Linked DNA regions of Homo sapiens: region 1 is linked to region 2. Evidence: fine-mapped expression QTL. A gene starts in region 2. The other region holds a variant in brackets. All regions are shown on one strand. Distances are between the middles of the regions. Region 1 has its middle 53 kb from the start of CTPS1. Region 2 holds the start of CITED4 (Cbp/p300 interacting transactivator with Glu/Asp rich carboxy-terminal domain 4).

Evidence for each region.
Region 1: its variant is fine-mapped to the expression of CITED4 in subcutaneous fat (TwinsUK, PIP 0.95).

Annotation. Positions count from the first base shown.
Region 1 is chr1:40,920,170-40,932,772 of GRCh38, reverse strand. No RefSeq gene overlaps it. Among named protein-coding and RNA genes, the nearest start is that of CTPS1, 53 kb to the left of the region's middle. The variant T/C (reference allele first, on the strand shown) is at 6,211.
Region 2 is chr1:40,854,974-40,867,576 of GRCh38, reverse strand. CITED4 (Cbp/p300 interacting transactivator with Glu/Asp rich carboxy-terminal domain 4) reads left to right here and starts at 5,214. Exons shown (of 1, transcript NM_133467.3): 1 at 5,214-6,523. The coding sequence starts at 5,450. The coding sequence ends at 6,004. It overlaps LOC124904157 (a long non-coding RNA gene), which reads right to left and starts at 5,193. Exons shown (of 3, transcript XR_007066025.1): 1 at 4,467-5,193; 2 at 3,182-3,409; 3 at 646-829. LOC105378676 (a long non-coding RNA gene) reads left to right here and starts at 10,083. Exons shown (of 3, transcript XR_947239.2): 1 at 10,083-10,515. RefSeq lists enhancers at 1,305-1,854, 1,855-2,404, 4,828-4,887 and silencers at 4,988-5,187, 5,348-5,427.

The DNA of each region.
Region 1 (12,603 bases), 65 kb before region 2:
CAAGCCGTGTCTCCCAGAATCCTAGCTTTTCCTACTTCCCTTATTGCCTTCCAGGTTTGTTGTGTTTCCCATTATGCCCCCAACATCCAGCACAGGACACATGATAGGTGTTCAATAAATATGGTGGAATGTATGTCTAAGCATGCATTTACTGAGAACTTACTAAGTGCAAAGCACTGTGGAGAAACCAAAAATATGGACCTTACCCTTAGCGACCTTTAACTAAAATCACGAGGAAAACAGATTTTTATTTATTGTTTATTTTTTACCTGACTAAGGAATACAGAAAAGGTTCTTAGAGGAAATGTTTTTTGGTGGTCCCCTGGGAACAGATAGATAGGACTCAAATGGATCTCGGGTGGGGGCAGGGGAGCAAGGGAGGCCAGATGCTGGGGAGGCGAGAGTGAGGGCTGGCAGCCCTGCAGGAATGCTCACTGGGAGGACTGGAAGAGCAAGGGTGGGGCAGAGGACACAGACTGAGGGAGCCCAGGGGAGGGAGTCAGCTCTACCAACTGGAGGAGGGGTCGGCCAGTCTGGGCCTCCTGTGATGAGTAAACAGGCGTTGGGGAGGAAGGGCTTTGTGGAAAGAAAGACCCACCTGTGCAGAGCATGCAGGCAGGAAATTGCAAAGGGTGTTCAGGAAACAAACGCATGTCCTGTGGGATATTAATGGGATTCTACAGTCAAACTCACTTGGGAAATTCTGCACTGAACAAGGTTAAACAAATGTCTTTCCTGCAATGTTCCTCAGAACCCTTAATATGTTAATGTGCATTGGGTCTACAAGGCAGGGGTATATGAGTGACATTTCCAAGAAAGGCTTATTAACTTGACAGCACATTAGTTAGAAAAGGGTGGCAAAAAAGCTGGCGGGTCAAACAGCTTGGGGCGGGTGAGGAGGGTCTGGGATGCCAAGCCAGGGAATATTCACATTAGCTTAGAGAGCACTGGAAGAATAAAAGATTTTTTAAGCAGGGTGGTGACGTAAGCCCGGCTGAGAGCTAGCAAGCTGCCTCCAAAGTCAGTGTGGGGATAGATGTGAGGAAGGAAAGAGATTAACGTGTTGATATAGTTTGGATCTGTGTCCCCACCCAAATCTCACATTCAATGTAATCCCCAGTTTTGGAAGTGGAGCCTGGTGGGAGGTGATTAGATCATGGGGGTAGGTTTCTCATGAATGGTTTAGCACCATTCCCTTGGTGCTGTCCTCTCAATAGTGAGTGAATTCTCCCGAGGTCTGGTCATTTTAAAGTGTGTGGCATCTCCCCCTGACCTCTTCCTCCTGCTTCGGTCATGTGACATGCCTGCTCCCCCTTTGCCTTCCGCCATAATTGTAAGTTTCCTGAGGCCTCCCCAGAAGCCGAGCAAATGCCAGCATCATGCTTACTGTACAACTTACAGAACTGTGAGCCAATTAAACCTCTTTTCTTTGTAAATTACCCGGTCTCGGGTACTTCTTTATAGCAATGCAAGAATGCATAATACATGTGTATTGTTGACTTACTCTGTTCAGCCACTGTGCTAGCACTTCAAGTATATAAGTGCATTTAATCTTCACAACTCTGCAAGGGTAAATGCTATTGTCCCTACTTTAAAAGTTGAGAAAACTGGCCAGGTGTGATGGCTCATGCCTGTAATCCCAACACTTTGGGAGGCCGAGGTGGGCAGATCACAGGAGCTCAGGAGTTCGAGACCAGCCTGGCCAACATGGTGAAACCCCACCTCTACTAAAATTACAAAAATTAGCCGGGTGTGGTGGTGGGGACCTGTAATCCCAGCTACTCAGGAGGCTGAGGCCGGAGAAGTGAACCTGGGAGGTGGAAGCTGCAGTGAGCTGAGATTGCGTCACTACACTCCAGCCTCAGCAACAGACCGAGACTCCGTCTCAAAAAAAACAAAAAAAAATTTGAGAAAACTGAGGCTCTGAGAGGCTGTGGGGCCACCTGCCCACCACTTATTGAAATATGTGTGTTAATTCACTGTGCCTCAGCATCTGTCTACTTGTGGAAATGAGCCAGCTCCTGAATCTAGGTCAGCCAGGGAGCAAAAGTGTGGGCCCGGCTGGGGAAGGAGCTCTGGGTGTGGGAAGAAGAGCTGGCTTCTGAGACCCTGAGCACTGTGGCCCTCTCCAGGACCTAAACCCTGGAACTAGCTGGGGCCTGAGGGAGCCGGGCATGTAGAGCTCCCCAGAGAGGCTGGAGAATTCACCCATGGATGACACAGGCATCCTCACCCCAACTCCCCATGAGAACAGAATCGGAGGCCCCATGGGCTGGCAGAAGGGACCTTGGCCTTGAAGAACACTTTCTTTGGTTCTCTCCCCTGCAATGCACTGCCTGAGAACTGACGGATGGCCATGGTTCCAGCCAGCTCTGCCACCAACCTGCCAGGTGATTACCTCATGTGTCAACAACATGATCCCTTTTGTTCCTCCCGGCTCTGAATGCCCTCTTCAGAACTCCTGTTCACACAGGTGCCATGTTGTGGAATCCTGGCTCTGGTCCTTCTTTCAGAAATTTTGGGAACTGGTTGTCATGTATCTGACAGATCAGCCTCATCTCATCTCACCTCTCACAACAACTCCATGGTGCCTCTGTTCAATGAGTATTTACCAACTCCCCACCCTTTGCCAAGTGCTGTCCTGAGAGCTGTGCTCACAGAGGTCCATCTTATGAAGCAGATATTGTTATGAACCCCATTTTTCTGATATGTTTGTTTATTTTAGAGACGAGGGGCCTCGCTATCTTGTCCAGGCGCGTCTCAAACTCCTGGCCTCAAGCCATCCTGCTCTCCAGCCTCCCAAGTAGCTGGAATTACAGGTATGAGCCATTGTGCCCAGCTACCCAGTTTTCCAGTATGGAACCTTGCCCAAAGTCTTGCCCTGGGTAAGACTTGAAATCAGGTCCGTCTACACTAACATCCCAGCTCCTGACCACCCAGTGTCACTGCCACCCATGTAAGCCCGGGCTCGGGACTGGAGCCCATGCCTGCTGGAGCAGGGATGGTGAGAGAGAAGGGGGCATGTTATGACCTCACTGTGCCCTGGGGTCATTCTTGGTTCTGCTACCTCCTAGCTGGGTCACATGGGGCAAATCATCTCACCTCCCTAAGTCTCAGTTTTCTCATCTGTGAAATAGCCCTACAGTATTTACCCCAAATATTTGTTGGGAGGATAAAATGACATCTTGAATATCAAGCCTCTTAGTACAGTCAATATTAGTTTCTCCATTTAAAAAATTTAATTTTCCCTAAAATAACCTGCCCCTTCTCATGCTCATTTCCAAAGGCTTGCAATGAGTGATCCAGAAACAAATGAATAAATAAAGGGATTTCCCAAATTCCCTGAACTCTGGTGTTGGAGTTGTGCAGCCTCATGTATCTTTATATGGCCTGCATGACATCAATGATGACTCACATTTCTTGATCATGTAATATGCTCTAGAAACTTTCCTGGGTGTTTTACACACACAGCTGTTACAGACCAGAGCTAGTTGTCTTTTGTTGTTGTTGTTGTTTTGAGACAGGGTCTTGCTCTGTCACCCAGGCTGGAGTGCAGTGGTGCCATCTTGGCTCACTGCAGCCTCGACTTCCTGGGCTCAAGTGATCCTCCCATTTCAGCCTCCTGAGTAGCTGGGACCACAGGCGCATGCCACCATGTCTGGCTAATTTTTTAATTTTTTGTAGAGATGGGGGTCTCACTATGTTGCCCAGGCTGGTCTCAAACTCCTAGGCTCAAGCAATCCTCCCAACTCAGCCTCCCAAAGAGCTGGGATTATAGCCGTGAGCCACTGAGCCCAACCAGAGCCAGGATTTGAACCCACAAAGTCTGGCTCCATGGCCTGTGCTCTTAACCACTCTGCTACTTTGTTCGGGAGGTCCAATGTAAACTTCTGTGTATTAAATTGTGAGATCCCAGAGGTCACAAACCATGCCTTATCTGGGATCCAGCATAGGCCTGGCCCTGAATGAGTTTCAGAAGATTCTTTCATTCATTCACTCACATTCACTCAACCAGTATCTCTGGAGGACCTTTGCAGGTCAGACTCTGTTCTAGGAGCTGGGGATACAGCAAGGAAGAAGGTAGAAAAGACCCCTGTTCCCATGGCAACTACTTCCAGTAGAATCCAGGGTTGCATGGCATTGAGTGACTGGGTGGCTGCTCTTATTGGGTGGTCAGGATGGCCCCTCCAAGGAAGGGATGTTTAGCTAGGACCTCAGTGATAACAGGGAACCAGCCATCTGAAAATCAGAGGGAAGAGCATCGAGATAGAGGGAACAGCAAGTGCAAAGACCCTGGGGTGAGAAAAAACTGGGCATATTTGAGAAACAGAAAGAAGCCCATTGTGGAGTGTTAGTTGGGGAAGGGAGACAGCAAGGCAGGGGCCACATCATGGGGACTTCATGAGCCAGAGGAAGGAGTTTTATTATGTTGTTCAAAGTGCAATAGGAAGCCGTTGGAAGGTTTTAAACAGGAAAATGACATAATCTGATTTTTAAAAAATTAATAGACTTTATTTTTAGAGTAGTTTCAGGTTTATAGAAAAATTGAGCGGAAAGTCCAGAGTTCCCTCTCACCCTCTACTGTGCATACATGCACACATATCACAATTTCCCTTAGTATTAGCATCCTCCATTAGAGGGGTACATTTGTTACAGTTGATGACCCAATACATTATTATTAACTAAAGTCCACAGTTTACATTAGAATTTGCTCTGTATTGAACATGAGTTTTGAATAATGTATGACCTGTGTCTACTATTATAGTAGCATACAGATTAGTCACACTGTCCTAAAAACCCCCTGTTTTCCACTGATTCCTCCCTCCTCCCAAGGCCTTGGCAACTACTTTTTTTTTTTTTTTTTTTTTTTTTGAGTTGAGTCTTCCTCTGTGGCCCAGGCTGAAGTGCAGTGGTGCGATCTCAGCTCACTGCAACCTCTGCTTCCCGGGTCCAAGCGATTGTCGTGCCTCAGCCTCTCAAGTAGCTAGGATTACAGACACGTGCCACCATGCTTGGCTAATTTTTGTATTTTTGGTAGAGATGAGGTTTCACTATGTTGGCCAGGCTGGTCTCGAACTCCTGACCTCAGGTGATCTGCCTGCCTCAGCCTCCAAAAGTGCTAGGATTACAGGTATGAGCCACCGCACCTGGCCACAACCACTGATTGTTATACTGTCTCCATAGTTTTTGCCTTTTCCGAAATATCATAGATTTGGAATAACACAGTATGTAGCCTTTTCAGACTGGCTTCCTCCACTTAATCTGATTTTTTTTTTTTTTTTTTTTGAGACAGCATCTTACTCTATTGCCCAGGCTGGAGTGCAGTGATGCAATCATGGCTCACTGAAGCCTCAACCACCCGGCCTCAAGCAGTCCTCCCACCTCAGCCTTCTGAGTAGCTGGGACTACAGGCACATGCCACCATGCCTGGCTAATTTTTAAATATTTTGTAGAGATGGGGTCTCCCTAAGTTACCTAGGCCAGTCTTGAACTCCTGGGCTCAAACAACCCTGCCTCCATCTCCCAAAGTGCTGGGAGCACTTTGGGAGTGAGCCACCGCACCCAGCTTGATCTGATTTTTTAAAAGATCAAATTGGCTGTATCGTAGGAACAGATTGGAAGGGGACAAAAATAACAAAAGGAAGACCAGTTAGGAGACGAAGCAGTCATCCAGAGGCTCGATGAAGTGGTGGGCCAAGCTGGTGGGGAGAAGTGTGTGGACCCCAGGTGCACAGTGGAGACCCAACTTTTGGGAGCTGCTCATTGAGTGAGTGCAGGGGAAGGTCAAGGATAGGAATGATTGATGATTACATCGCCAGGGTTAAACCAGGCCTGCACAGAGTGGGGTTTTAAAGTGTTCATAGATATTGCTGTGGTTTTTAATCCCCTTAAATACTCTTGTTGTTCTCTTAGAAATTGAAGAATCAGTTCCAGAGAGATCTCCTGGAGGGCCTAGGATCACAGAGCAAAGCAGAAACCACAGCTGTCTCGGAGGACGAAACTCCAGCTCTTCACCCAGAGATAGTCGTGGGCTGGTGGCTTCAGGGCCCACTAGGGCCTTTGTTATGAGTTTTCTCTTCCCAGCGGTCCTTTTATTGCATAATCAATAAACCACTGACAGAAATAAAAGGCTTCCAGATATATACGCTGCTGATTCCCTGCCTGGAAAACCTTCCCCTCTGCCCTCCTTAAAACCTCATGGCTTCTTAT[T/C]GCACATTGCACCCGGGGGGGGGATATCCACTTAGAATTGAATCTCAGTGAAACTGCTTGTTAACTTACCCTGACCTCTGAGTTAGTTCAGCTTATTTTGGTCTCAAGTAACTACCTTAAGGCAAAAACAAACAAACAAACAAACAAACCTGGGAGGGAGTGGTGGGATGGATATCTTGGGAGCTATGGAGGCACCACACAGACTGAAGGAAGAGGAGTTGAATCAAGGATCGTCTGAAGAACAGGTCTAGCATGTCTCCAGGGATCACTGCAGTAGAAGCCTGCTGCCTTCAGGGGACAAGTCTACCATGACCCCAGATGCTGCTTCGCTCCACTCCATTCAAACTCCCAGCAGGCCTTGGATGATTCCAGCTTGGTCAGGAGTGCCCCTCACCCACTGCTGAGATCAGTTAAGTCTTGGTGGGAGCACAGAACCACATGGTACAAACGGAGTGGGATGGGATCGTTCCAGGCAAAATCTTCATGGGAGATGAAGCTGTTCATGGCCCCCCAGCCAGTGTTGGTCATTCTGTCCCTGGTAACCCTATAGCTCAATCACAGCACTTCACAGATTGTCTTATAATTATTTGCCCCAGCTGGAATGCAGTGGTGCAATCATAGCTCACTTCACCCTCTATCTCCCCAGCTCAGGCCATTCTCGTCCCTTAGCCTCTGGAGTAGCTGGGATTACAGCACACACCACCATCCCCAGCTAATTAAAAAAATTTTTTTTCCTGTTGCCCAGGCTTGAACTCCTGGGCTCAAGTGATCCTCCTGCCTCAACTTCCCAAAGCTCTGAGATTACAGGTATGAGCCACTGCACCCAGCCAATTTCTTGACAGTGTATGTCACTTTCACTGGGCACTGGGTTCTTCCAGGATTGTGGCTTTGACTTACTTAATCTGTTATGCTGCAGGGGTGCCCCTGTTGCTGTTCTCCCTTCTTCTGCAGTAATTGGGACCTGTTTTTAGCAAGGCTAATGGCCTCCCAAAGTCCTGACGTGTCTTAGTCTAGCTTGCAGCTAGGGGTGTCCAAGCAACAAGGTTCTGGCCAATGCATAAGGAGGGAGGTGGTGTGAGCAACTTCAGTGAGACCTTTCCTGGAAGAAGCATGCCCTCCGCTTCTCCTCCTTACCCTGCTGGCTGGAACATAGACATGGTGGTGTACCCCATAGGACCATGTGGAAAAAGGTAACTCCCTAGAAATGCCAGAGCCCCCCCAGAGAGCGAGCCATGGTCCCTGACACCCTGAAGCTGCCACATCGGCTTTGAACTGCTTCCCCGCTGAATGTTCTGAGAGGCACTAAAACCTCTTTTCTCGTTAAGTCTTCCTGCAGCCTAATATAATCCATACTAATAGCCATGCCTAACATGCTGACCGACCTTAGTACGTGCTTAATAAATGATGGTTGAGTTATTAAATCAATGACAAAGAGAGAAATACTCAATGCCAGCATTTATCACATTGACACTGCATATTCTTTCTAGCTCCTCTCTACATACAGTCGATATTTTAACAGAGGTATAATTAGAGCAGAAATAGAATTTTATATCCAGCATTTCCCCAGTAATAGTAATTACGTAATAAACATTTTCCATGTCAAGTCCTTGTATCATCATTCTAAATGAATGTGTCATTTTCTTTTCTTTCTTTTTTTTTTTTTTTGAGATGGAGTCTCACTCTATTGCCTAGGCTGGAATGCAGTGGCGCGACCTCAGTTCACTGCAACCTCCACCTCCTGGGTTCAAGCGATTCTCCTGCCTCAGCCTCCTGAGTAGCTGGGATTACAGGCATGCACCACCACACCCGGCTAAGTTTTGCATTTTTAGTAGAGATGGGGTTTCGCCATGTTGGCCAAGCTGGTCTTGAACTCCTGACCTCATGTGATCCGCCCGCCTCAGCCTCCCAAAGTGCTGGGATTACAGGTGTGAGCCACTGATCAACCATAATTTACGTAACCACCCCGTTATTCTTCGGTATATACATTTTCCCCATTTTTCCTAATTATAGAGAATGCTACAAGAAAGTTACTTATGACTTTATGACTATTCTTTTGCCTTTTCCTTTTGACAAGTCCTTTGAGAATGGGATTGTTGCCTTTTCTAATATTTTAGAACTCTTTCTACCTTCACCGGCCACTCCTGTTTCATAATTGCCAATTAAATTGTGAACAATGGTCATGACGGGAATAACAATTACAGTAACAACAGCTGCTGGTTACTGATCACTGACTATGTAACCATATCATGCTAGGCACTTTTCATCTTTTTGTTTCACATATCCGCATATAGCTATACATACTTTCTCTCTCTCTCTCTCTCTCACACACACACACACAAGCATGGGAAGTGGTAGTTAAAAGTGCGAATTCCAAGGTCAGACTAAATTCAAATCTTAGTAAAACAGCTTCTTCACTATGAGACCCTGCATAAATTACTTAACCTCTCTGTGCCTCCATTTCCTCATCTATAAAATGAAGATAGTAATACTTTCTTTATAGGGTAGCTATGAGGACTAAATGAGATAACACAATAATAGCTGGCATTTCTTGAACACCTACTAGGTGCCAAGCACTATGCTAAATAAAGGCTTTATGTTAATTCACTTATTTCTTGCCAGATTATAGGAGCTAAGTATTTTCAGCCTCATTTTGCAGACAAGGCACCTGAAGCTCAGAAGGTAAAGACATACCTGCCCAACCTGCAGGGAGCTGAGCAATTCTCACCTGGGTCACACTGACCTCACAGTCCCAGGCTCCTCCCAAAAGGATTCTTCTCTTTAAGCAGTCTCAAACGCTCAATTTCTCCAGCATAATCTCTCCTTCCGCCCCCATTCCCATCCCACAAGGTGCAGCCTTCTTTCAGGTGTCCCCTCCCCGCCATCACTATTGCAGCATAGAATGCCACAGAAGCTCAGTTAGGAACAATCCCCATTTATCAAGTGCTTCCTCTGGGCCAGACCCTGTGCTTGGTGCTTTATATCATTATCTCATTTAATCCTCAGACAGTCCTGGAACATAAGCACCATTACCCCCATGTTACAAGTGAGGAAACCCAGGCCCAGAATGCTGGAGCAAACTGCCCAGCGTTGCAGGGTCATTGCATTCAGGAGCTGAGACTCCCAGTCAGGCTGAGAAATGCAAGTCTAGCATCTTGCCACCCTCACCCACAGCTGCCTGGGATGGTGGTTCCCAGGGGATGGGGAAGATCGTGTTGTGATGGTTCCAGATGGCCTGATGGTTCCCCCTGCCTGAGGGCAGCCATGCAGAGAGTGCCAGCACAGCGTCCACTAGAATCTCCCTGCCTCTCAAGGCCCAAGGCCCTAGGCCCAAGGCAGGGCCGAGATCCAAGGGAGAGCGGTCGGACGGGCTTTCTGTGCCGCCCCTGAAATAGCCAGCTCAGCTCCCCAGCTCCAGCTCTGCAACTGCAGGCGGATCCCGGAATAGCTCTTTCCTCCTGCAAGGTGACCTAGTTAGCAGGTTCCTCTTGTCATGTGAGGTTGGCTGAGCAAGACATTTACCTACCTCTGTCTACCCAGAAAAGCCTGATCCGACACTTTCCTCTCCTCCTTCCCCCGATGCTGTTCCTGATTCTCCCACGGTTCACTCATTCTAGAAGTCCAGGGAATGGATGATAATGCACTAAGCGTGGTGCTTCAGGGCCTCAAAGCATGTTCACAGACATTATCATACTTCCTTCTTACACCAGGCTTGGAGGGCGAATCTATTATCAACCCATTTCACAGCTGAGGAAATAAAGGTGCAGAGAGGGTAGGCAACATGAGCAAGGACACACGGCTGGGAGGAGGCAAAGCCAGGATCTGGACCCAGGTTCCTGAAACTCAGACCAGTGTCCCTGCAGTGCTTTGAGTTTCCCTGGTTTTATGCACCTCTCTGAGGAGCCCCAGTCACTAAGCCTTCCTCACCTATCCACTGCCTGTGTTGGACCTCCTGAACACCTATCTGGTTGTAGAACTGGGTGCAGAGGTTGAGATCAAGGACTTGGAGGTCCACCAGCCTCAGGGTGGAGCTGGGATTTGAGTTTCAGCATTTATCAGCTCTGTGGCCTCAGGCAAGTTGCTTTGCCTGCCTGAGACTCAGTTTCTATATCTGTAAAATGGGCATAATAATCATACCTGCATCCTAGGGTTTCTATAAGGATTAAATAAGATAGGGTACATAAAGTGCCCAGCAGCTTCCTTTCATTTTGCATATTTTTGATAAAATAGCTATTGTTGTCCAGGCACAGCGGTACATGCAAGTAATCCCAGCACTCTGGGAGGCCCAAGCAGGCAGAGGGTTTGAGCCCAGGAGTTTGAGATCAGCCTGGGCAACATGGCGAAACCCCATCTCAGCAAAAAATACAAAAATTAGCTGGGTGTGGTGGTGCACACCTGTAGTGCCAGCTACTCGGGAGGCTAAGTTGGGAGGATCACTTGAGCCTGGGAGATTGAGGCTGCAGTGAGCAGAGATCACTTCACAGCAATCCAGCCTGGGTGACAGAGTGAGTTCTGTCTCAAAACAAACAAACAAACAACAACAACAAAAAAACTATTGTTGTTATTATTATTGACATCCTGAATTTAACCCAAAAAGGAGAAGCTTAAGATGGGCTAGTGCCAATGAAGAGTTGCTGTAGTAAAGGTTGTTATGACTATTCCCATGCCATCATGCACAGGCCTGGAAGAAAGAGTCATATTGACAATAACACAACTCCAGCATATGGCAGTTTCTTCTGAAGTGTTGGCCCCTTGTTCCACTGGATGGCTGCTGGCTCCCTGTAGGAACCCACTGCAGGAGAGGAGAGAGGTGTGGGCAGCCTTGGCTGTCACCCTAGGGGTGCTTATTCACTCTGCAAGTGTCACATCCCACTGGCAGGGGGCATAGAGAAGTGCAGGGTGCCTACTCCGGTGATCCCTGGGTGCTGTGGGTCGTGCAGAAGTGAAGATGCGGAAGGAGATTAGGGGCAGGTCTGGGGACCCCTGAAGACCATGATCAAATTATGTAAAGGCAGAAGTGGCTGAGGGCTAGTGAGAACGAAGCTGGACTTGGGGGATCAGATGCTGCATTCAAATCCTTCCTCCACCACTCCTTATATGTGAGCCCACAGATAAGTTGCTTAACTGCTCCAAGCCTCAGTTTACCCATCTGTAAAAACTGGGCATAATTTGAACCTCATGGGAAGGTGGCGAGGCTTGGATGAGTTACCTACGTGTTGCACCAGCACAGTGATAGGCATGACATGGGGGCAGAGTACATGTTTGAGAATTTGAATTTGAAGTCTAGCCAAGCCCCAAGACCCAAGGTACCATCTTAGGAATTTGGAAGAAGAGATGAATGTGGTCTGGAGTAAACAAAGAAGGCTCCAGAATGATAGCATGACTGGCCTTGGGTCCTGAAATCTAAGTATAACAAGGATGCTGGAGAAGCTTGGGGAGGCCATTCAGACAAGAGGTCCAGTGGGAGGAATGGGCATGGCACACAGACAGGACAGTCGCTTTCCGTCACACCCCATGGAAGGTTTTTTTTTTTTTTTTTTTTTTTAGAAAGAGTCTCATTCTGTCACCCAGGCTGGAGTGCAGTGGCACAATCTTGGCTCACTGCAGCCTCAACCTCCCAAGCTCAAGGGATTCTCTCACCTCAGCTTCCCAAATAGGTGGGACTACAAGCATGCGCCACCACGCCTGGCTAATTTATACATATAAATACACATTATGTATATACATGTGTGTATATATGTGTGTATATATGTGTGTGTGTGTGTGTGTATACATATACACGCACAAAACTGTAGAGACCAGGTTTCACCATGTTGCCCAGGCTGGCCTCAAACTCCTGGGCTCAAGCAATCCACCCACCTCAGCCTCCCAAAGTGTTGGACCATGCCTGTCTCTCAGAAAATTCAAACTCTTCACCATGGCCTTTCCTCTGTGACCTCTATTCCCAGCCCTTCTGGTCACCGCACTCACTCTACCTCAGTGGCCTGGTCACTGTGCTCACTCTACCTCAATGGCCTCCTCGCGGTTCCCACACACATCCTCTTCATCACGCCCTATTCTTTTGACTTGTGTACAGAGCACTTAACATACTCTGGTACTATACAATTTGTCATTTGTGTACATGTTTATTGCCTGTCTGCTCCAAAGAGACTGTGAGATCCTTGAGGGAGGGGGCTCCACTTCATTCACTGGAACATCTTCAGTTCCCAGAGCAATGGCGGCACATAATATAGGCTCAATAAACAGGGTTAAAGTAGGTGGATGGATAAGCAGTAGAGAGTCCAGCAGAAGGAGGGGTCACATGAGACGCGGTTGGGTAGGTTGATACCAAACAGAGGGCTGTGAAGTCCAAGCTAAGGAGTTTAGGTGGCTTCCAATAAGAACCAGCAGAGCTTA
Region 2 (12,603 bases):
GTGCGATCTTGGCTCACTGCAACCTCTGCCTCCTGGGTTCAAGTGATTCTCCTGTCTCAGCCTCCCAAGTAGCTGGGATTATAGACACGCACCAACATGCCTGGCTAATTTTTGTATTTTTAGTAGAGACGGGGTTTCGCCATGTTCGCCGGGCTGGTCTCGAACTCCTCACCTCAGGTGATCCGCCCTCCTGGGCCTCCCAAAGTGCTGGCACTACAGGCATGAGCCACCGTGACTGGCCCTCTTTTTTTTTTTTTTATGACAGGGTCTCACTCTGCCACCTAGGCTGGAGTGCCATGGCACAATCCTGGCTCACTGCAGCTTCAACCTCCTAGGCTCAGGTGATCCTCCCACCTCAGCCTCCCAAGTAGCTGGGACTACAGGTGCATGCCATCATGCCTGACTAATTTTTTTTATTATTGGTAGATACAAGGATCTTGCTATGTTGCCCAGGCTAGTTTCAAACACCTGGGCTCAAGTGATCCTCCTGCCTCAGCGTCTCAAAGTGTTGGGATTACAGGCGTGAGCCGCCACACACAGCCCGTTTTTGTTCTTTATATCCTTATCCTATAAGCTTTTCTCTATTTTCAATATTTTTTTTTTTACTGTTTTTGTTAAAAACTAAGACACAAACACACACATTAGCCTGGGGTCAGGATCATCAATATCACTGTCTTCCACCTCCACACCTTGGCGCACTGGAAGGTTTCAGAGGCAGTAACATGCAGCTGTCATCTCACGTGATAACCGCCTTCTGCAATACCTCCTGAAGGACCTGCCTGAGGCTGCTTTACAGTTAACTTTTTTTTTTAAGTAGAAGGAGTCCACTCTAAAATAACAATAAAACATATCATAAGTACGTAAACCAGTAACATAGTTGTTTATCATCATTATCAAGTGTACTGTACATAACTGTATGTGCTATACTTTTATATGACTGGGGGCGCAGTAGGTTTGTTTACACCAGCATCACCACAAACACGTGAGGAATGTGTTGCGCTATGACGTTACAGTGGCTACAAGGTCACTAGGTGATAGGAATTTGTCAGCTCCATTGTAATCTTATAGGACCATTGTCTTGACCCAAATGTAATGCAGGGCATGACTGTATGGTGGTGGGTGCTAAGGACAGAAGCAAAACAGAGTAAGGGGACAGAATGGATAGAGGGTGGTCAGGGAAGGTCTTGTGGCTGTCTGAAGGAAGGGCATTCCAGGCAGAGGGCACAGCAAGAGTCCTGAGAAGCAAATGTGCTTGGGGCATCCAAGGAGCCTGGAGGAAGCAGTTTATGGAAACTCTAGAAACAAATGAGGTCTGACCATAGCAACACTTTCAGAACAAAGGCCAGATCATGTCACTCCTCTGCCAAAGTCCTTGCAAGGCCTCAATGCAGTTGGCCTCCCTGCTACCCTCCTAGCCCCACTGCACTCTGTCCACACTCCCTTAGGGCTGCGGCTCACCCTTGCCTAAGGCTTCCCCCTAACTCAGAGGTCCTTAATCAGAATCACCCGCAGGGCTTATTAAAACACAGATGCTGAATTCCAGCCCAGTTTCTGATTCAGAAACTGATTTGAGTCTGGTGTACGGTCCTAGAATGTGCATTTCTAATGGGGTCCCTGGTAAGGCTGACACTTCAGGACTTGTTGCTACAGTTTTAGAAGTGCTGCTCCAGCGTTCTCTCTGCTGATACGGCTTTTTTTTTTTTTCTTCTTTTAAAGATAGAGTCTTGCTTTGTTGCCCAGGCTGGAGTGCAGTGGCACCATCTCGGCTCACTGCAACCTCTGCCTCCTGGGTTCTGGCGATTCTCCTGCCTCAGCCTCCTGAGTAGCTGGGACTACAGGTGCGTGCCACCACACCCAGCTAATTTTTGTACTTTTTGTAGAGACGGGGTTTCACCATGTTGGCCAGGCTGATATCAAATTCCTGACCTCAAGTGACCTACCCACCTCAGCCTCCCAAAGTGCTGGGATTACAGGCGTAAGCCACCACGCCCAGCCCGCTTTTGCCCCAGATACCCCACTTAATACTACAACTTGCTCCCCTCCTCCCCTGCACCCCAACCTCCTTCCTACTCTATTTTTCCTTTTTTTTTTTTGTCTTTTCTCTTTTTTTTTTTTTTTTTTTGAGATGGAGTCTCACTCTGTCGCTGGGGCTGGAGTGCAGTGGCGCTATCTAGGCTCACTGCAACCTCCGCCTCCTGGGTTCAAGCAATTCTCCTGCCTCAGCCTCTTGAGTAGCTGAGATTACAGGCGTGTGCTACCACACCCAGCTAATTTTTGTATTTTTAGTCGAGACAGGGTTTCACCATGTTGGCCAGGCTGGTCTCAAACTCCTATATCAGGTGATCTGCCTACCTTGGCCTCCCAAAGTGCTGGGATTACAGGTGTGAGCCACCATGCCCGGCCTAAAGAACTTCTTAAACATTAGTTACACACACATTTTTTTTTAAATGGAAAATCATCTGGTGGTGCAATGGCTCCCAAATGCTGGTGACCTAAGACCAATGATGGCAGAATAATTTTTTGTTTGTTTTGTTTGTTTTTTTTTGTTTTTTGAGAGAGGGTCTCCCTACATCACCCGGGCTGGAGTGCAGTGGTGTGATCATAGCTCACTGTAGCCTCAACTTCCCAGGTTCAAGTGATCCTCCCACCTCAACCTCCCAAGTAGCAAGGACTACAAGTGCACACCACCATGCCAAGTTAATTTTTTATTTTTTCAGAAACAGGGGTCTCAAACTCCTGAGCTCAAGGGATCTACTTACCTCGGCCTCCCAAAGTGCTGGGATTACAAGCGTGAGCCACTCACCTGGCCTGCTTGTTGATTTTTTTGAGACAAGATCTCTGTCGCCCAGGCTGGAGTGCAGTGGTGCCATCATGGCTCACTGCAGCCTCCACCTCCAGGGCTCAGCTAATCCTCCCACCTGAGCCTCCTGGGTAGCTCAGACTACAGATACATGCCACTATGCCCAACTAATTATTTAACTTTTTGTAGAGACACGGTCTCACTATGTTTCCCAGGCTGGTCTTGAGCTCCTGGGCTCAAGCAATCCTCTCACTTTCATCTCCCAAATTGGGCAGATTTTCCGTCTTTATCAAAGCCCCCACTCACCCACCCCTTACCCCCCACATCTCCAGATAAGTGTGAGGCATGGCCAGGTTTAAGAATTTCTGTGAGAAGCCTTACCTGTAGAGAAAGATTCAGGAGAATAAATTCCAGGGTGTAGCTTTTTACACTTTGCAAAAATGTGACCACACCCATGGTCATTTATCACTACCCACAAGCTCTCAGGCTGACCAGGCAAGATCACCGTCTCCCTTTCACAGAGCAGAAAGCTGAGGCCCTGGGGAATCAAGTAATACTCCCCGCTCAACACTCAACAGTCACAGCTGGTTGGTGGTGGAGGTCACACACCTGTGGGTGGCAGAGATATGATTAGAACTTGGGCCTCTGGCTGGGCGCAGTGGCTCATGCCTGTAATCCTAGCACTTTGGAAGCCTGAGGTGAGAGGGTCACTTGAGGCCAGGGATTCGAGATAAGCCTGAGGCCCTCCTCACTCCCCCACGCCGCCCCTCCCCCCCGCTCCCTTCTCTATTTAAAAAAATAAGAAGAAAGAGGGAAGAAAAGACCTTGGGCCCCTGAATTCTCACTCTAGGGCTCTCCCCTCTACATCAACTGGATAAACCCAAGTTCCAGGAAGTCCCAAGGATGCCACAGGTCGGGGGAAGGTCAGAGAAGGGAGAGAGAGTGTCAAATGCGTGGAGGGTAAGGTTCTGGGAGGCTGTCTCCTGGCCACAGGAAAGACTCCAGTTGCCCTAAGGACTTGGAAAACACATGGCATTCACACGCTAACTCTGGCTGCCTGTGACCTCAGGACAGCCACTTTCTCTTTGTGTGCTTCTCCTTATCACTGAAATGGGGCTGATAATCCATGCCCTGCCCCCAACAAAATACTTGTAGAATGTAAAGCACTTTAAAAGTCCAAGTTATTATTGCTGTTATCAAGAGAAGGCCCTTTGGGACAGAACTTAAATAGCCTTGGCCGGGCGCGGTGGCTCACGCCTGTAATTCCAGCACTTTGGGAGGCCGAGGCGGGCGGATCACGAGGTCAGCAGATCGAGACCATCCTGGCTAACACGGTGAAACCCCGTCTCTACTAAAAATACAAAAAAAATTAGCCGGGCGTGGTAGCGGGCGCCTGTAGTCCCAGCTACTCGGGAGACTGAGGCAGGAGAATGGCGTGAACCCGGGAGGCGGAGCTTGCAGTGAGCCAAGACAGCGCCACTGCAGTCCAGCCTGGGCGAAAGAGCGAGACTCCGTCTCAAAAAAAAAAAAAAAAAGAACTTAAATAGCCTTTCTTTCATCTAAGGGACACTTTTGAGCATCTACCACATACCAGGCACTGTGCTAGGCACTGTGCACACATGCCCTCACTTACCCCTCACAAAGGGTCAGTGCTGCTGTTCTTTACCTTTTACAGATGAAGAAACTGAGGCTCAGCTGAGAGTTGCAATTCATTCCATCATTAGTTCATTCACTCAGCTTTTACTAAAAGCCTGCTCTGGGCCAGGCTCTGGGCCAAGTGCTGAGAAGAAGAAGATGAACAAGTCCTTCAGGAGACGTGCCCATAAATTAATAACAACTAAGTACATGCTTCAACAGACAAGGTGCAGTGGGAACTAGAGGGGGAGCAACAGGCTCTCCTGGGGGTTATGGGAATGGACAGCTGACCTCCTGCGGGGACCCTGCACCGCTAAGGTGCATGCGCCCTGTGTAGCTGTGCAGTCTCACTTTGATCAAGGCTTTGCTGTGTATTTCCAGGAAGCCTCTTCCGCCACTGAGCCTCGGTCTCTACCTGGAAAGTTAAAAGGTTGCGTAGGCCTGACATCCTGCAGCTCTTGGGGGGCCTAAAACTCTGGCCCTCCCACCCCACCTTCTGGTCAGTTCAAGCTCTACCCCAGCCAAGTCCGATTCCGAAGCCCTGAGGGCCAGACCGAATCCCTCCGAAAGTGCCAAATACCCCGCCCCAGGGCGGTGCTCAGAGCCTGGGGCGTGGCCGGAGTCCCAAGGGGCGGGGTTCCAGTGGGAGGGGCGGGGCCAAGACCTAGATGCAGGCGTGCGCGGCCCGCCCAGAAGCGTCTCGCCCAGCCAATGAGCGTCCGAGGGCGGGGAAGCCCCGCCTCTGGGTATAAGAATACGCCGAGCCCAGCTACGCGACGCGGAGGTTTCGGAGCACTACAGGTTGCGGGCCTTTGTGACCCCAGGCTGCGGCCGCAAGGTGCGCAGTAGTGGGCTGGGCCGGGGCACCAGTCGGGTTTGGTTTTGCTCCGCCCGGCCGAGCTGCAGGGACCGCACGGTGCCCGGGTCTCCCGCCGCAGAGCAGCCGCTGGCCCGGGCCGGGGGAGCCGGCGCTGACCACCGCGCGCTGTCCCCGCAGGCAGCCGGCCTGCCGCCATGGCCGACCACCTGATGCTCGCCGAGGGCTACCGCCTGGTGCAGAGGCCGCCGTCCGCCGCGGCCGCCCATGGCCCTCATGCGCTCCGGACTCTGCCGCCGTACGCGGGCCCGGGCCTGGACAGTGGGCTGAGGCCGCGGGGGGCTCCGCTGGGGCCGCCGCCGCCCCGCCAACCCGGGGCCCTGGCGTACGGGGCCTTCGGGCCGCCGTCCTCCTTCCAGCCCTTTCCGGCCGTGCCTCCGCCGGCCGCGGGCATCGCGCACCTGCAGCCTGTGGCGACGCCGTACCCCGGCCGCGCGGCCGCGCCCCCCAACGCTCCGGGAGGCCCCCCGGGCCCGCAGCCGGCGCCAAGCGCCGCAGCCCCGCCGCCGCCCGCGCACGCCCTGGGCGGCATGGACGCCGAACTCATCGACGAGGAGGCGCTGACGTCGCTGGAGCTGGAGCTCGGGCTGCACCGCGTGCGCGAGCTGCCCGAGCTCTTCCTGGGCCAGAGCGAGTTCGACTGCTTCTCGGACTTGGGGTCCGCGCCGCCCGCCGGCTCCGTGAGCTGCTGAGGGCGGCCGGCGCCCGCCCGGCGTGCCGGAGAGGAGAAAGGGCCCGACTGCCCGCCGGACCCTGCACCCAGCGACTGGGCCCCGCGCGCGCCCTCCGCGAGGGTGGAGGCGGCGGCTGTGTGCGCAGGGCCCGGCACCGGACTGGGACCCTGGCGTCCCTCCAGGCCTTGCCTCCTGCGGGAGGACAGTTTGGCTTCACTTCTCTGACCCCAGCCTCGGCCGTAAAGTGAAAGAGACCGGACCAGCTTCAGCTTTCGGACTCTGGTTCTTGGATCGTGTCCTCTCCCCCTCGCCGCCCTCTTCCCCCAATCTGAGCCATTGCAGGCCTCTGCCTGCTGCCCCCTCTCTCCTCGGGATCGGGTCCCCAGAGCCACCATCTCCTGAGCCTCCCACCCCGCTGCCTGGGCCCTGTGGTTGCTGGGCCTCCCACCTCAAGGAGGGGAAGGTTGTACAGCCCGAACCCGTGGAGCAATGCCCTGTCTGGCCTCCAAAACCAAAATAAAACTGGGTCACTTTACAGTCTTGCCGTTTTCATTTCCTTATCACCCCGAGCCCTGACTATATTTAGCTTCCAAAGTCCCAAGGTTGCTGAAGACACTGGATGGCATGGGGGCCACAGTCCCCAGCAGTGCCCAGGAGAGGAAACCGACAGTTTCTTTCAAAAATATCTCGTGGGTTGTGCAATTGTTATGTCACAACCTGGAGGGCAGAGGCTGCCACTGGGTGGTGGGGTAACCCACTGGGCTTCCCAGCTCCTAGGGTAGGGTGGGGGGAGCTTGGTGCTCTGCCAGAGAGGAGCTGGGTGGCACCGAGTTCAGACAGCCTAGCTTTGGACCCTGACTCTCTCCTTTGCCCAAGACACCATCCGTTCTGATTTTTGAGGCGGTTTCCCAGAGGGAGATGGTCCCCGTCTCCTCAGGTAGTTACGCTGCCTTTAGCACAGTGCCAAATACCTGGGCAGTTCTCAGTAAGTGACGGCAATTATTATTCTACAAATTGGTGCTGATTTTATTCCAGGCCCTGTGTCAACCTGGTGCATGTTCTCATGGAATCACAGCCCAGGTGGGAGGAGGTGGGTGATAGGCCTGAAAACAAACTAATCTTGCTGCAAGGAAGACTGTGATGAGTTCTAGAAAACAGTGCTAAGCAGCACTTTGGGAGGCCGAGACGGGCAGATCACGAGGTCAACAGATCGAGACCATCCTGGCTAATATGGTGAAACCCCGTCTCTACTAAAAATATAAAAATTAGCTGGGCATGGTGGTGCGCGCCTATAGTCCCAGCTACTCGGGAGGCTGAGGCAGGAGAATCGCTTGAACCCAGGAGGCAGAAGTTGCAGTGAGCCGAGATCATGCCACTGCACTCCAGCCTGGCAACAGAGCGAGACTCCTCAAGAAAAAAGAAAATAGTTCTGGGGGGGATTGTACAGCCAGGACAATAGACCGGCCAAGCGGGCACACCCAGAGAAGGGAGCAGTTTCAGCTATTAATAGTTGAGGTTGGGGTCAGTTCAGGCTTCAGGGAAGCGGTGACATTTGACGTGATGAACAGAGCCTTGAGTGATGAATATGTTTTTAGGAGAGGAGCCTGTTTCAAGGCAGGAAGGCACACAAGTACGATGAATGTTTGGGGAAGGTGTGGGGTGTCTAGAAGGTACAAGAAAGGTCGAATGGCTTTACGACAACTTCGTGAGGCAAGCACAGTCCTCATTCTACACATGAGGGTTGTGGAGTGTGCCCAGGCCTGGCAGGATTTGGCCTCAGAGTCCTGAGCACCAGCGTGAGTTCCTGGCCACCCTCTGCAGTTCACTCTGGAAAAATCCCTAGGTGCTTCTGAGATGTGGGAGAAAAGCTGGGAAAGAGATTGAAGTCAGGGAGGAGGCCGGGTCAGAGACGCTGCGGTGGTGGGGCATTCTCTAGGAGAGCATGGATTCCAGGGACACTGGAGGGGAACACCAGGCTGAGACCTTCTGTCCCCAGCAGCTGGGCTTGACTCTCAAGCCAGGCTTTTTTGTGGATGTGACCCTCCACCAACCTGTGAGTTCTCCCAGGACCTACTGTGCTCTGAAGCTACCAGGATGGAATGTGGCTGGTGACAGGAGGTGTTTGGCAAATGAATAAAGGTCTCCCTAAGATCATGGGATTTCTGGGACAGGATGAAGAGAGAAAGGAAGAGAGCCTTCTGGGAAGGGACTGGCCTGAGCTCTGGGCTCAGAGGGGCTGGCATTTGCCCACCCCACCGCCCCGCTGCTTTGCCCAGAACCCCAGGCCAGAGACAGAAACCACAGGGCTGAATTAGTACAGGAGGGTTTGACCCTGAGCTGAACACTTCCCTGATTCTCTTCTCTCTCCCCTCAGTTTCCACACCAGTAAAATGGGGCTAATATCCCTGCCCTGCTACATTACAAAGCAATAACCCTCACAATTAGTAAGGAACAAATTCAGAGATGGGTTGATAAGCAGTTGGCAAACTCTGAAGTGCTCTCCATATGGAAGGGATTACAACGAAAACCCCAACACCTGCCTCTTTCCAGAGTTAAGGGGGAAGCGGAGGAGAGAGTCCAGCTGCTGAGCTCTTCCCTCCTGCATCCCTCCAAAAGGGACTGCTGACAAGTTGGACAGCAGACAGATGGACAGGGGAGAAGATGAGGCTGGGGCATCCCACAGCCTGGATCCCCAAATCCCTGATACTGTTTGGAGGCTTCTGACCCTACCATCCCCTACCAGGGGAAGAGAGAGTACGTGTAGAGACAGTGAGGAGAGCAATGGGCTTGTCGTCTGACAGCCTCAGGGTCCAGTTCAGAAGCAACTCTTACTAGCTGCCTGACCTCAAGGAAGCCACCACACCTCCCGCATCTTGGCTCTCCTAAGATAATCACACGAGCTTCCGTGGTGCCAACAGGGTGTCGCTCATGTCTCCCCCAGGGCTGCCTCCTAAAGCAACCTGTTGCCAAAGGGTGCTGTGGATTTCTCTCTTATACCTAGGCTGGATCTTGGGGGTCAGAAATCAGGCTTCCTCAGGGTTGAGAACTGAGTCATGACACAAGTCATTTTCCCATCCTTTTGTTGTTGTTGTTTTGTTTTGTTTTCCTATTCATATGAAAGTTTCCAGGCTGATGTTCTTTATTTTGAATTATCTTTTGGTTGACTGGATTTTATCAACAAGCTGTCATTTGTGTGTGTGGTTTTTTTTCCTTCAAGAAAAGTATAATTTCCCTTGAACTCATCTCTACAATGGGAATGCTAATAGTACCACCCTGCAGAACTGCTGTGGAGATTAAACAAGTTAGTGCAGGTAAAGTATTGAGAGCAGTGTGGTTTGTAGTAAGTGCTGTTATCCCTGATAACAGCACTTTTTGGAGATGCCTTTGTATTAGAATATTAGAAAGGCTGTGTTTTAACCAGCTAGAAAGGGGTTACTCCAACAAGCAACACTGTTACAGGTGGGGTTCCCTGGGAAGCAGACTCTGAGATGACATTCAGCTAGCAAGAGGTGTATTAGGGAGTGCCTTCAGGATCAGCAGCTGCAGAAGGGAGGGGACAGAAGGAGCTAAGAAGCTACAAAGCAGGCCCAGCAGGAGCCTCAGCCAGCCCCGCTGGGAGCTCTGGAGCTAGAAGGGCCCTTCAGAGTTGGCCTGAGTTGGACCATTTTAATCCTTTATACTCCTGCCTCCATCAGTCACTGGATGTGAGCCACCCAGAGAAGTGGTGTGACTGTGGGCAAGGCAGCTGTCCCCAGCTAAGCTCATCCCTGGAGGAGCTGCCAGGGTACGGCTGTCTACCAACAGCAGCACTCCTGGGGGCTAGAGCAATGATTCCTTTTCTTCTCTTTTCTTTTGTTCTTTTTTTTTTTTTTTTTTTTGAGACAGAGTCTCACTCTGTCGCCCAGGCTGGAGTGCAGTGGCGCGATCTCTGCTTACTGCAACCTCTGCCTTCCGGGTTCAAGTGATTCTCTTGCCTCAGCCTCCTGCATAGCTGGGGTTACAGGTATGTGCCACCGGACCCAGCTAACTTTTGTATTTTTAGTAGAGATGGGGTTTCACCATGTTGTCCAGTCTGGTCTCCAACTTCTGGCCTCAAGTGATCTGCCTGCCTTGGCCTCCCAACGTGCTGGGATTACAGGATGCACCACCGTGCCCAGACTAGGGCAATGATTTCATAGAAGGGGGCTCTGGGCGGCACATCACAGTGTTCACCACAAGCACTGGGGTGGGGACTCTGGTTCCCAACAGCAAGGGACTCTTTAAATTTATGCCCTGGGTATCTCTTTTGCCTCACCTTAGTCTCAGACCTGACCAGCACCTTCCCCATTACAGAACAAAAACAACAAAATGTAAATGTATCAACCTTACAGGTTTGATGTGATGAGACTCTATACAAAATACCCCACACATGGTAGATTCTCAATAACTGAGCGCTGCCATCACTATCATAATTGTCATTGTCATCATCATCGTCATTGTCATCATCATTATCATCATCGTCATTGTCATCATCATCGTCATCACTCCAGGTCAGATAAGTGTTCAACAGTCATTTATCGAATAAATTAATGATCAGTCTGATCCTAGCCTTTTCCCAGGCAGCTTAAGTGGTTTAGCTGATTACTAAGTAATCCTCTTGAATTCCTTAATCCATCGTGGCCTAACTCTTCATGCCACCCTGTTGTTAGAAGTGCTGGGACAAGATTAGTGCCAACTATAAGACCAAATAAGTGCTTACTGAGTGGCTGCTGCGTGCAGGCATGGTGGGAACTGACGGGGAGTGCCCAGTGGCACTCTTTCTTTTCCAGTCTCTCTTTAATCACCGCCCAACCCTGTAAATAGCACTGCTAGGTAGTTTATCCCCATTCCAGAGGTCAGAAAACTGGGGCACTCAGAGAATTACTCCAAGTCACACCTCAGTAAGAGGTGAGGTGAGCATGTCCACCCCACCATATCCAGGGCCTGTCCCCTTCCCAGGCTGGATCTGGCCAAGGACCTGAGCCTGGGTGGGATAAGAGCAGAGTCCCAGAGCTGATCTGCCACTCTGAGGCTGTGAATTGCAGAGGAAGTTACTGGGCCTCCTTAGGCTTTGATTCCTTCTTCCATCCAATGGAGAGAATAATTCCAACATCTGAAGAATGTGTGTGCAAAGATTCACATGAGGCTGGGTTTCTGAGAGCACACTGCAAGCAGTGCAGTGCTGCCTGGCCAAAGTGGGTTTGTGGCTGAACAACCATGGCCCTTATCCTGTAGCTGGTCTGGGAAGAGGACACCTGCATATACTTTGGGGCTTGAGATCTGGCCAGCCTGGAGCATGCAACGTAGAGTCTCATGTTGAGGGCTCTAAGGAGGCACTGCTGAGCAGCTCAGCGTCTGGACGGCCCTGAGGGCTGGTGCTGATAAAAGAGTGGGATGTGGGTCAGCTTGGGGAGGACACACAGGTTGGGGGACTGGGCATGAGTAAAGGCCCAGGGCCCAAAGTGTGCCCTGATGGATAGAAGAAATAAAGGAAGCTACTCTGAGTGCAGTCCCCTCGTCTGTCAAATAGAGACACGATAAGCTTCTTGTGAGAATGAACCAAGGTGATGTTAAGTGCCTGACCCGTGAGCTGCTCAGGTGGAGCTGTGGCTGGGAAATATGACCACAGGGACGAGAAGGACAGAGCCCTGCCCCACCCAGCCTCCAAGTGCCTTCCCACCCTCAACTCCAGCCACCCCAGGCTCCTCATGCACGATGTTCCTCGTGCCGCCAAGCCTCTGTTCCTTTGCCTGTGCCATTTCCTCAGCCTGAAATGCCCTCCATAGGGCCTTTTCCACATCCAAAGGCCTATTACCTTGTGTGTCAGAGTCGCTGAGGGGTCTTTCTCCACCAGACTGTAAGGCTCACCATCGCCCCCTGTGTGGCTCAGAGGGCATTAGGAAGTGCTGGGCCAGGCATGGTGGCTCACACCTAGAATACCAGCACTTTGGGAGGCCGAGGCAGGAGGATCACTTGAGTCCAGGAAAATTTTAATACATTTTAAACTTAAAATTTCATTTTTTATTTATGAGGTGTAGTTAACTCTAAGGTTGGCAAAACAAATTTTCAAAATAATTTTTTAAAAATAAAAATAGTCTGGGCGTGGTGGCTCATGCCTATAATCCCAGCACTTTGGGAGGTCGAGGCAGGTGGACCATTTGAGGTCAGGAGTTCGAGACCAGCCTGGCCAACGTGGTGAAACCCCATCTTTACTAAAAATACAAAATTAACTGGGTGTGGTGGTGGGTGCCGGTAATCCCAGCTACTTGGGAGGCTGAGGCAGGAGAATCACTTGAACCCAGGAGGCAAAGGTTGCAGTGAGCTGAGATTGCACCATTGCACTCAAGCCTGGGCAACAAGAGCGAAACTCTGTCTTAAAATAATAAAAATAAATAAATAATAAAATAAAATAAAATATTATAATCCTATTTATATAAAAAAGAGATGTGTATTATGTATATGTATGTAACGTATGTGTAGTATAATGGAATCGTGTGTGTTTGAAAAGTCTTGTGTGGGGGTGGTCTGACTTTTTACTCTGTGCTTTCTACATTGTTTGAAAATTATTTTGTCTTAAGCGTATATTTATTTTGACCAAA